Regions from separate parts of the Homo sapiens genome. Here region 1 is linked to region 2. The links come from fine-mapping of genetic effects on gene expression. Tissue or cell type: fibroblasts. Region 2 holds a variant in brackets; the other region holds the start of a gene. All regions are shown on one strand. Distances are from middle to middle.

What was found. PIP is the estimated chance that this variant, and not a neighbour inherited with it, causes the effect.
Region 1: it holds the start of SCUBE3, and the variant in region 2 is the best candidate, but not a certain one, in a credible set for the expression of SCUBE3 in fibroblasts (GTEx, PIP 0.59).

The regions. Positions count from the first base shown.
Region 1 is chr6:35,210,885-35,215,884 of GRCh38, forward strand. SCUBE3 (signal peptide, CUB domain and EGF like domain containing 3) reads left to right here and starts at 3,072. Exons shown (of 22, transcript NM_152753.4): 1 at 3,072-3,619. The coding sequence starts at 3,535. It overlaps LOC112267955 (a long non-coding RNA gene), which reads right to left and starts at 2,796. Exons shown (of 3, transcript XR_002956343.1): 1 at 1,745-2,796. RefSeq lists a silencer at 3,096-3,205.
Region 2 is chr6:35,167,902-35,173,923 of GRCh38, forward strand. No RefSeq gene overlaps it. Among named protein-coding and RNA genes, the nearest start is that of TCP11, 30 kb to the left of the region's middle. The variant A/C (reference allele first, on the strand shown) is at 3,239.

The sequences.
Region 1 (5,000 bases), 42 kb after region 2:
ACCAAGAAAAATAGATGGCTGGGAAATGGTAGGGCCTAACAATGATCTCAGGGCAATCTACTTCCAGCTTGTATGTGCTCTCCATTAGACTATATGGCACTGCCCATCGAGGTAGGGTCATTGGACTCATTTTATATATAGGGAAACTGAGGAGCAGAAAGAAAAAGCAACGCTCATGGAAGGAGACTTTGCAGGGGAGGGGAAACCCCTGAGCCTGGTGGGCCCTGGCAGAAGGATCCCTAAACAGGACTGAACCAAGATCTATCAGCTAGGGGATCCCTGACCCCTGCCAGTCTTCTCCTCAGACATTTTCAGGAGCAAGTAGAATGAAACAAATGTCAGAAGCATCCCTGAAGGAAAATGAAGCCCCAAAGCAAACTGCAACCTTAGAGGTGCGTGTAGGAGGCCCAGAGCCCACTGGACATTTTGCCCCTGCTGGTTATGATATGGCACGTGCTGCTGCTGCTTTTGTAGTACCACTTGCAAGTGCCATCTTGTTGTTCCTTCCCTGTCATCTTCCTGAGTTACTGTCCAACTGAGTCCCTGCAGAAGAGGACAGGGCAAAAGGCAATATGAATTGGACCAGCACCTCAATTCACAGTGTCCTGGTGATATAAGCCCTGCTTCTACTCCTGTAGAATAGTCTGAAGGGCTGAGGGTACTCTGGAATCAGATTGGGTGAGTGGCAGCAGGAGAGAAGAGCAGGGAACTGCCTCTTTTTGCCCAGATGTGGAGGAGTAGCTCATCTGGTCCAAGAGGAAAAGAGGAAATCATCAGAGGAAAACTGGTAGGATGAGATAAAAGGCAACTACGGGGCATAAAAATCAATCTTCCAGAGACATAGTGGCTTAGGTGGAAGAACCCACCAAACCTCCCTCCCTGAAAGCCAGGGCAATATCCGTACTCAGAGGGCCGGGAAATCACCCTGAACTGAAGGCCCCAAATAACCCATAATCCCCCTATAGAATCCTCCTTGCCCACCTCAAGGAGGATGTAGGGGCCCTCCCTCCAACCCCCCAGGGACCCGGAGGAGCTACACTAGTGTCCAAAGAAGGCAGAGGCAGAGCAAAGCAAGGCAGCGTGCCATCTCCCCTCCCAGCCGTGGGGGAGCTCCTCGGCTCTCTCTCTCTGTGCCCCCATGGAGATCACAGACACCGTCCGGCAACCTCCACTTCTTTCTCCTTTTTTGAAACCATTCTCTTGTTGGGGGCAAAAAAGATGGCAAATTTACACTTGTCCTCCAACCCTACACATAATTGGTGGCAGCAGGCAAAACCGCTGCAAGGGGAGGGTTTTGCCAGTGGAATGAAGGAGGGAGGGCATCTTAGAGTGACAAGGATGGGAGGGACCTCAATCATCTGACCCAGCCTTGCTGTGGCCTCCACACCATTCCCATGATCTATGTGCTCCCATCCCAAAGGTCATCTTTGATGCTATGCAAGGTTCTCCAGGACTCCTCCCCCAGGCTTCCTTGGGGCACTGCCCCCTTTCCACCACTGAGTGAATCCACTACCCTCTTGTTTTCTGAGGAAACTGAGGCCCATTGACATATGACTTGTTCAAAAGTAATCTTCATCCCAGGATAAGAAGTTTGAGTCTGTTTCCATCCTACTTTTCCACTGAATCCCTAGGAAAGGAAGGGCTCAGCTCTTCTCCCTGGTGGACAGCACCATTGCCAACAAAGTCCTCCCCTTGCCCCAGCTGATGTGGGCAGCCAATATGGAAGGTCTCAGAACTGAATCACCTTTGAGGAGATCTTGGTCATTGCCTCTTCCTCCTGGGTACGCTGAGGGCTCTGTGAGGCTAGTCTGGGTCCTAGCAGCATCTTCCCTGTAGAAAACTGGACCTGGCCTGGTCTCATTCTGAACACAGCCTCACACTCCAAGAAAGTCTTCATAGCCTTTCAAGAGGTCTTTCCTCTTTCCCTTACAATGGAAGGAAAGAAGATACAGAGTGGGTGAACAGTCAAGAGGCAGCATCCATGGTTGGAAGACCCTGCTCCTTCTGCGGTTTGCCCCTGTTTTAAAAATATCCTTTCTCTTTCCTCTGCTTCCCCTCAGTTGGAAGGATGAAGGGTTCAGAATGGACCAGTCAGGACCACCTCTTGAAGCGGGGTGCAGGTTTGGAGGAGCCTCTTGTACCTGTCTCTATGTCTCTGTGTTTATACACATAGACATGATTCTGTGGGGTAGCTTTCGCCCCTGTGCTGACCACATGAGAGTGTCTGTATGTGAGTCCATGTCTCTGCGGGTAGGGTGGTTCATTAGGCTTACCTCCAAGGCCTTAACTGCAAGGGAGTCTGCCCTGGAGCTGGCAGTTTTAGCAGGCGGAGGCTACTTTCTTTTTGGTCCTCAAAGTGGACTCGCATCTAGGAATGGGGACTGAGTCTTGAGGTTGGGGGTGTGGTAGGTGTAAAAGTTGAGAGGTTGTTACTCGGCCTGGTGTCGGAGGCGGTGTGTTCCGAGGTCCTATGTCCCCTGTCAGGCTGTGTCGGTGGACACGCCCGAGTGCCCGTGTGTCCGTGTGTCCACGTCTGCCCCAGCCTCCCCAACACCTCGCACCCTCTTTGTCTCGGGTGGAGGTGTGCGTTCAAACCTGGCGCCGCACGGCCGTCCTCGCGAGCGAGCGCGGGGACGCACCCTCGCTCCCCGACTCTTTCCTAGGGGAGCGAGGACGAGTCGGAGCCCGGTGCTGTTTGGTCTGGAGCCGAGCGGAGCTTGCATTGATCCATTGATTGCGCGCGGTCTGCGCCTGACCTCCCTGCTCCCGGGGAAGCCGTCTCCATGGAGACCAGGCCCGCTCCCCCATCGCCGGATTGTAAATTCCTGCAGGCAGCGGCCCGGCAGCCTGGGGAGGGGGCCACCGCGCCCGGGCGCGCAGGGGGAGCGGCCACCGCGCCGAGGCCCCATTTGAAAGAAAAAAGGGCACGAAAAAGGAGGTGGTGGAGAAGGAGGAGGAGGAGGAGGAGGAGGAGGGGGAGGAGGAAGAAAACGAAAAGGAGCGAGGAGAGGAGGAGAAAGAGGAGGAGGAGGAGAAAGGCGAAGAAAAAGAGCCTGAGAGACGGAGAAAGAGCGAGAGAGGAAGAAAGAGAGGCAGAAAGGGCGTGTTTCTGGCGCTGCGTTTCCCCTCCCCTTTCTCAGGTCCTTCGCTCGGGCTCTGCGCGCTCTCCGGCTGCAGCTCTCTCCCGGCGAAGCTGGGAATTGGGTGGGATTACACGGAGCAGCCCCGCCGCCGCCGCTGGCAGAGGCCGGCTTGGAGAGGGCGGGGGTTCCCCTCCGTCAGTCGCCCCTGGCGCCCCTCGCCTCGTCGCACTCTCCGCCTCGCTCTCCCCGACGTCCGGCCAGGAGGAGCCGGTAGCATCGGGAGCCTCGCGCCGAGGGCGCCGCGGTCCGCGCCCCGCGACTGCAGCCCCCGGCCTGGCCCCGGCGGGGCGCCCCCTCCCCTCCCCCTCCTGCGAGCTGGGATCCGGCCGGCTTCCGCCCTCCCCTGGCCGCGAGACCGGCCCCGGCGGCTGGGCCGCCAGTAGCTCCAGCCATGGGCTCGGGGCGCGTACCCGGGCTCTGCCTGCTTGTCCTGCTGGTCCACGCCCGCGCCGCCCAGTACAGCAAAGCCGCGCAAGGTAAGGAAGGAGGGGCGCGCGGCCTGGGGGCTGTCCTGGCTGCTGGGCCTCAGGGCCTAGGAGCGATTCCCGAGGGGCAGGGCAGGTGCTGGGGAGCGTGCTGCTGTCAGAACCCGGCTCTGTGCACCCGGACTCCCCGGCCAGGGGCCCGACCGCTGGGCGCTGCGCCCCGAGCGAAAAGCCGGACAAGCTGGGGGCGGCAGAGAGGAGTGAGAAACTCTTGGGGGCGGTGGGCAGAAGAGACCACGCGCCTCAGAATTCCGCTCGACTTCATCCACTCCCAGCATCTTCGAAAGACTTCTTGTCTTCCAAAATCTGAGAGAGAATTTTCTCTTCTCTCAAACATTGCCAGAAACTTACGCTGTGGCCTGGAGAGACTGAGGGAATAATGAAAACTTTTCAGCCGTGCCGTATATTTCTTTCCCTTACCCCCAACCCGCATGCAAAGTTAGACATTTCTAAGTTGATGCCTTATCAGTGGAAAAATGTTGAAGAAAAATAGGATCTTTTATGGAAAAATCAACTCATCTCTCACCGGATGGTAGGGGGCTGAAGAAGAGAAGAAAATTTCTGTGACTGGCTCCCGACAGGAATGTTGCGTTTCTGCCTCTTTGGGGTGAAATCTCTTTCGTCTTGCATGGCTTTCATTTCTTATCATAATATTTATTTATTAAGGCCTCGGGTTTCCAATTCCATTTAAATCCAGGTCAGAATTGCATTAAAATAACAAAGTAGAATTCCAGGCCGGGGAGCTCTGACAGATCCCTCTAGGAATTAAAGAGAGACAGGGAGGCCTCCCGCCCCCGTCCCTGACCCCCAGCTCATCGCCTGGCAGGTCCCAAGGCTGTGCAGGCAGAGACTAGGCTGATGTACTACAGTTCTCTCGGGACAGTTTCTCCTCCCCCTTGACCTCTTGCTGTACCCCTCCCCCATCGTGTCCTCACCGACAAGAGATTTATATGGACAAAAAGAAAATTCCTCCTGGCAAGGTTTTGCCCAGGAGAGTATGATTCTGCCTATTGTCCCAGGGGCTCCTGAAGCCAGCTGGGTGAGGAGATGGCTGGGCCAGAAGGAAAGTTGAACTTGGGAGTTGGGGAAGCCTGAGTGTCCGACACAGGTCGCTGTGTCCCAGAGCCTGAGCGTTTGGCTCTTAAGCTGCTCTGTTGTATTGGATGGGCTCCTGCTCTGTGAAGAGGAAGGTGCTGTATCAATGCCGCCCTCCTCTCCCCAAACACTGCCTCTTCAGCTAACCTCTTCCCCCTCCAACCTGTCCTTTCACAGAACTGAAACACTAGAGATCCTCAGCTGTCAAATACTGGACCCTGCCCCCACACCTTCCAGCCCCACACTGCCTCTTTTCCAGTCCTGGTTCCAGACAGCG
Region 2 (6,022 bases):
GACAGCCTCTGTCACCCAGGCTGGAGTGCAGTGGTGCGATCATGGCTCACTGCAGCCTCGCCTTCCCAGGTTCAACAAAGCAGAGGCTCCCACCTCAGCTTCCTGAGTAGCTGGGACCACAGGCATATGCCACCATGCCTGGCTAATATTGTTTATTTTTTGTAGAGATGGGTCTCCCTGTATTGCCCAGGCTGATCTCAAACTCCTGGGCTCAAGTGATCCTCCCTTCTTGGCCTCTAAAGTGCTGGGATTACAGGTGTGAGCCATCACGCCAGGCCAATATTCTCACTTTTCCTCAACTTCATACTGTATTTCTCTAAATGCAGCACCAAAGTTTTTGTTTCTCTGGAAGCCATATCACATGACCAACTTTTATCATGAACTAAAACTTGTGTCCCTTTTTCATACACACAAGTGCTAACACATTTCACCCCTAACATGTCCTCTCACAGTTTTGTTTTGCTTCATTCTCTCCCTCGAGCTTGCAGTCCTTGGACTCTTTTCATCCTTTTAGAGGCTGCCTATCTTTCTGGCCCATCAAGACTCTCTTCTGGATCGGAGATCTGGAGACCAGGGGAAGACGATAACCATGTGAAAACCACGAAGGCTCAGCCGTGTGAGGCTCTTGCCTGCATCTTTCTGCTTTCCCCCCTTGTGGGTCCTTAAAAGCCTGCCCAGCTGCCCAATGAGGTGACCCCTTAGAGCCTGCCTGGCTGTGTTGACGTTCCACAAGCAATTGTCTGCAGAGGAGCTCTTGTGCTCCTTTTGAAGTTCAGTGGAGTGAAGTGTAATCTAAGTGAGCTGGAACACATTTCGATAAAACAGCTTGCATGGCCAGGGCCTCCTTTAGGCAAAGCCATTAACATGGGAAGCGGAGCCGGGCTCAGCTGAGCTTTCCAGTCTGGATTCCCCAGGCCTTCCACTGGCTTTTGATCACAGGACATTAGGATTTTGGTGCTCGGAGGGATAGCTCAGTATAACCCCCTTATACACAGATGAGGAAACTGAGGCCCAGGGAGGGGAAGTAACTTTCCTGAGGTCACATAGCTGGTGAGGTGCAGAACCAGTGTTGGGACACTTGTCCACACTGGCTAGACCCTCCCTGTGCTATACAGAATGGCAGATGGGCAGGGAGGAAAAAGATAGAAAGGACAATGCAAACATGGAAGGGTCAGGTTCCCTCCCTGGAGGATGCCTGGTGGGCCTTGGTGTCCACACACAGGCCAGACTGGCTGAGGAGGGGAGGATAAGAGCATAAGTCTGATGAGTCCTCACAACTTTTTCAAAGCACATTTGCATTGTTGGTCTCAATTGAGTCCCATAACACCAGGAGGAACTCAACAAGCCGGGCTGGTGTCTTGCTGATGGGGAGTCTACCAGAAAGGTGAATTGACCTGCTCAAGGTCCCAAAGAGCAGGTGGGATGCTTCCATGGGAGTGTTTTGCCCTGGAAAATGGCTTTAAAATCACTTGGGTAATATATGGGAAGTAACAGAATCAACTTTGTAAGGTTGTTGTGAGGATTAAATAAGTGCTTAGAATTGTGGCTCAGTAGGGCTGGCTTCTGTCATCACCATCATCACCACCATCACTATCACCACTATCATTACCAACACCACCACCACAACCACCCCATCATCACCACCACCACCACCATCACCATCACAACCACCATCACTACTACCACTATCATTACCAGCATCATCACCATCACCACCACCACCATCATCACCACCACCACCATCATCAACACATCACGACCACCACCACCACCATCACGACCACCACCACCACCATCACAGCCACCATCACCACCATCACAACCATCACCACTACCACCACCATTACCATCACCATCACCACCACCACCATCACCAACACATCACAACCACCACCACTATCACCACCATTACCATCACCATCACCAGGACAGCTGTTGTTCTTACCCACCCTCAGGACTGATCCAGCCAGCAAGGCCTACCCTCCCTCCCTTCCCCTGGGAGAAAGGAAAGCTGCTCTAGCTAAAGGTGGCCTCATTGCTGAACTTCTTGCCCAGACTTCTAATCCACTGATCAGAGGACCTTAAGAGTACCCTATGGAAACTCTGGATCCATGGTGGCCCCCATAGTAGGGGAGGTGAGGCTGACATTCTGAGGTGCCCAGACTGTGTTCTGGCTCTCTAGATACCCCTCTGAGCTTCCAGAGCCCCTGAGAAAGGGAAGCCATCCTGTCTTACATGTTCCCCCATCCTTGTTCTCCAGGGAGGCTTCTCAAGAGTAGAGGGCTGCAGAAGGGCTTTCCCTACTCCTGAATGCCAGCAGGTCCCCCAGAACAAGACATGCAGCCAATCCCTCACCACTTGGGGAGTGAGTGGGGGCAGGAAGGCAGGGGGGACCTGATCTTTCTCTTCAGCCTGGGAATCTCTGTGTGCTGCTCTCTGGCAGCAGATGGTTCTTCCTAACTATGTCTGACTCAGGCTGATGTTAGAATGAGTTGGCCTTCCTAGGAATTGACGGGGTGAAGAGAGCCAGGGCCTGCTGGGGGCCCCAGGGGACCCTTTCCATAGACAGAAACAGAACCTTCACAGTTCATCTTTTTGTGTGTTCTGTATTTGAATTCTTCTTAGCCTCATTCTAGTATCTTAGCTTTTTGAGGACAAAATTCAAGGACATTTTCTCTCTGCAAAACTCTTCACGGCAATGGTCAGCTGACTTTTCATTATGTATGCATAAATGGATGGATCAGTTCTGAGCTGGTCCCTCGCTTTGCTGTATCCTAGCATCTCTCCCTCCACCCCTCCATCCTTGAGTGAGCAACACGTTTCAGACCTCATGCTGATCAGCAAAGGTACAGAGAAGACAGAATCCCTCCCTCAAGGAACTCTCTCGCAGTAAACATCACACCTCAGACCACGTGGTGGGTGCCACCAGAGGATGGTACAGGTGTGTGGAGGAAGCAAGAGGAGAGGGACCTGGTCTGACTGAGAAGGTTATAGTCAGGGAAGGCTTCCTGGAGCAGGGGATGTCTGAGCAGAATCCTGCTGCAGGGCTCTGAGCCAGCAGGCATAGGGGGTAGGGATTTGGAAGGATGTTCAAGGCATCCCAGGCCACAGGGTCACCTAAGCCAAGATGCAGAGGCACCAAAGAACAGACAAGCCGGGGCCCCTAGGAGATGAGCAAGCGGAACATGGGGTGTGAGAGGGGAGAGACAGTGGTGGGTGGAGATGGGAGCAAGGCTTC[A/C]TGTGACAGCTCATCCTGATGGCAGCAGCATCCTTAGTGGAGGCTCATGTTTGTTCAGTCTCTCAATCAAAGCAGCAACATGGTAGGGGCGGGTGGAGGGTGGTGGTCTTTCAAGCCTAGGGCTGAATCCTGGCTCTGTCCCTTGGGGGCTGTATGATGTGGACAAGGCACTTAACCTCTGTGAGCGTTGGCCTCCTCTTCTGGAAACACGGGGATAATGGTCCCTCCCTTGGAGAGTTACTTGGAGAATTCACGAAAGCCCCCAGCAGAGTGTCTAAAACTTAAGAGGGGCTCCATAGAAGCTAGTTAGTCATTCCTTCCTTTATTCATTCTGGTTCTCCCTGCTGCTTGTGTCAACTCTACAGTCAGGTAAGGAAGCGAAAAACTCATTATGTTAATTAGGACATAGGTTTGGCTGCTGTGACAAAGGCCAAAGTAGCATTGGCTCCAACGAGACAGCAGGTCATTACTCTCTCACACAGCAGCTTGAGCATGAGCAACAGGCTGGATATGGTAGCTCCACATAGTTGGGCACCACCGCTCCTTCTCTGTAGCTGCTCTGCCACCTTAACACCCAGCTTCTATCTCAGGGCCTAAGATGGCTGCCCCAGCTCCTGCCACTGCCTTCACATTGTAGCCAGTGGGAAGAAGAGACAGGAAGTAGAGGGCTTAATCTTCCCATTAAAGGCCTGACCTGGCATTTGTACACATCCACCTGAGTGTTCCAGGTCACATGCCATTGGCCAGAACTTGGTGACATGACTATATCTGGCTGCAAGGGAGGTTGGGAAATGTATCTCTAACTCAGGGACACTCAACTGAGGAGACCTTTTTTTTTTTTTTTTTTTTTTGAGACACAGTCTCACTCTGTTGCCCAGGCTAGAGTGCAGTGGCGTGATCTCCACTCACTGCAACCTCTGCCTCCCAGTTCCAAGCGATTCTCCTGCCTCAGCCCCCTGAGTAGCTGGGACTACAGGCATGCGCCACCACGTCCAGCTAATTTTTGTATTTTTAGTAGAGATGGGGTTTCACCATGTTGGCCAGGCTGGTCTCAAACTCCTGAGCTCAAGTGAACCACCCGCCTTGGCCTCTCAAAATGCTGGGATTACAGGAGTGAGCCAAGCGCCCGGCCTGAGGCATTTCTTGGTCACAGCTGGGAGAGTGGCTGGTGCTAGGTAGAGCGCAGGGATGCTGCTAAGCCTTCTGCCATGCGCAGGACAGCCCCCGGCAACAAAGAGTCATCCAGCCCAAGATGTGAAGAGTGCCGAGGCTGAGGAACCCTACTGTAGCTGGGTAGCCAGGACTTCTATTACAAAATGAAGGAGAGAAATGGTACAGGGGATAACCAGCAGTTTCTGCCATAGTTACATACACTAATGGTTACATGATTGAAGAGGATTAAAATGATATATTTTCCCAGGGGTATCTCTCTCCAGCAGGGATCAAAACTTTAAGTCAATGGAGCTTCACGGACTATCAAGAATTAGCCTGCAAGACAGCGAGGACTGTGGTTGGCCAGTCCTGAAATCCCACCCCGTGGGTGGCCCACCAGAGCCACCAGGGAGGCCAGAACCCACAAAGCCTCCCAGGGAGACAGTGCTCCACAGGCAGGGTTCAAAGCCTGGCCCTGCAGCAGTTCACCTTCCAAAATGTTCTCCTTGCAATAACTTGGGACTTTTTGAAACACATTTCTGATTGGTTCTGTTTTCCAAGGAGGTGAAATCTGGGCTGGCCACAAAGGAGGGTGAGAGATAAGGGGGCCTTAATTTTCAGGAAAAATACAACAGTAAAATTTTGGGGGTATTCATTTGGCAACAGTAAATTACTTGTGTTAAATCTCTGCATGAGAAACGCCAACACAGAGGAGTGAGGATTTTAACATATTTTGTAAAACGATCCCTATTCAGCTTGGCTTTCTCAATATCTGTGGTTATTGGGCATCTATAACATTCCAGAAACTGTCCTTAGCACTTTATAGATGTTACCTCCTTTAACCTCTCTATCAACCCCACAAAAAAGCTGTAACTGTTATTCCCCTTATACAAAGAATCAGAGAGATGAAGCAATTTGCCCGAGGCCACACAGCTAGTAAGATGCAGTGAGACAAGTTTTTGCCTCAGGAATGTCTAGCCCTAAAGCTCATTTTCTTCCCACAACCACCTCTTTATCTGCCAGGATGGCCACAGGGGATCTAACCTATTGTTAAATGTCTACCCGACCTGGGAAGGAGGTTCACCCCATCTCGGTTACTTGCTCCACTGTCTCACCCGTAAACAAACCTCAGTCGGTGGATAAATGCTGCAGAGAATGGAGTCACCCATCCTCTAATTGCCAGCTGGGAAACCGGAGCACAGAGTGGTCAAGTGGCTTGTTCAAAGCCACACAGCAAGTGAGAAAGTAACTCAAAAGCCCTGTCCCTCAGCTCTAACGAATAAACAAACAGCTATGGTGCCACAGTCCCCACCACCCTGCAGGTCTTGCCAGGAAAGCTGAGCTATTCATCTGGGGAAGAGGTCCATGAGGGAAGAGACTCTAGATGTTCACAGCAGTGGGACTCCTAGGGGCTACACAGAGGAAACCAGCCAGGAAGAAAGGTTGTTTTTGTCAGCGGGAAGTAAATAGCAGTGACTCAAAGACACACGTGCTCTGAATCCTTTGAGCAGCCAGGGCCCATTTTTAGATAGATGCTCTTTTGAGCCATAACCACACCCAGTGCCACAAGACGGCATTTGTCAACAGGAAGCCCATCCCTGTGATGCATCTTCTCTCCCTCCTGCTCTCCGC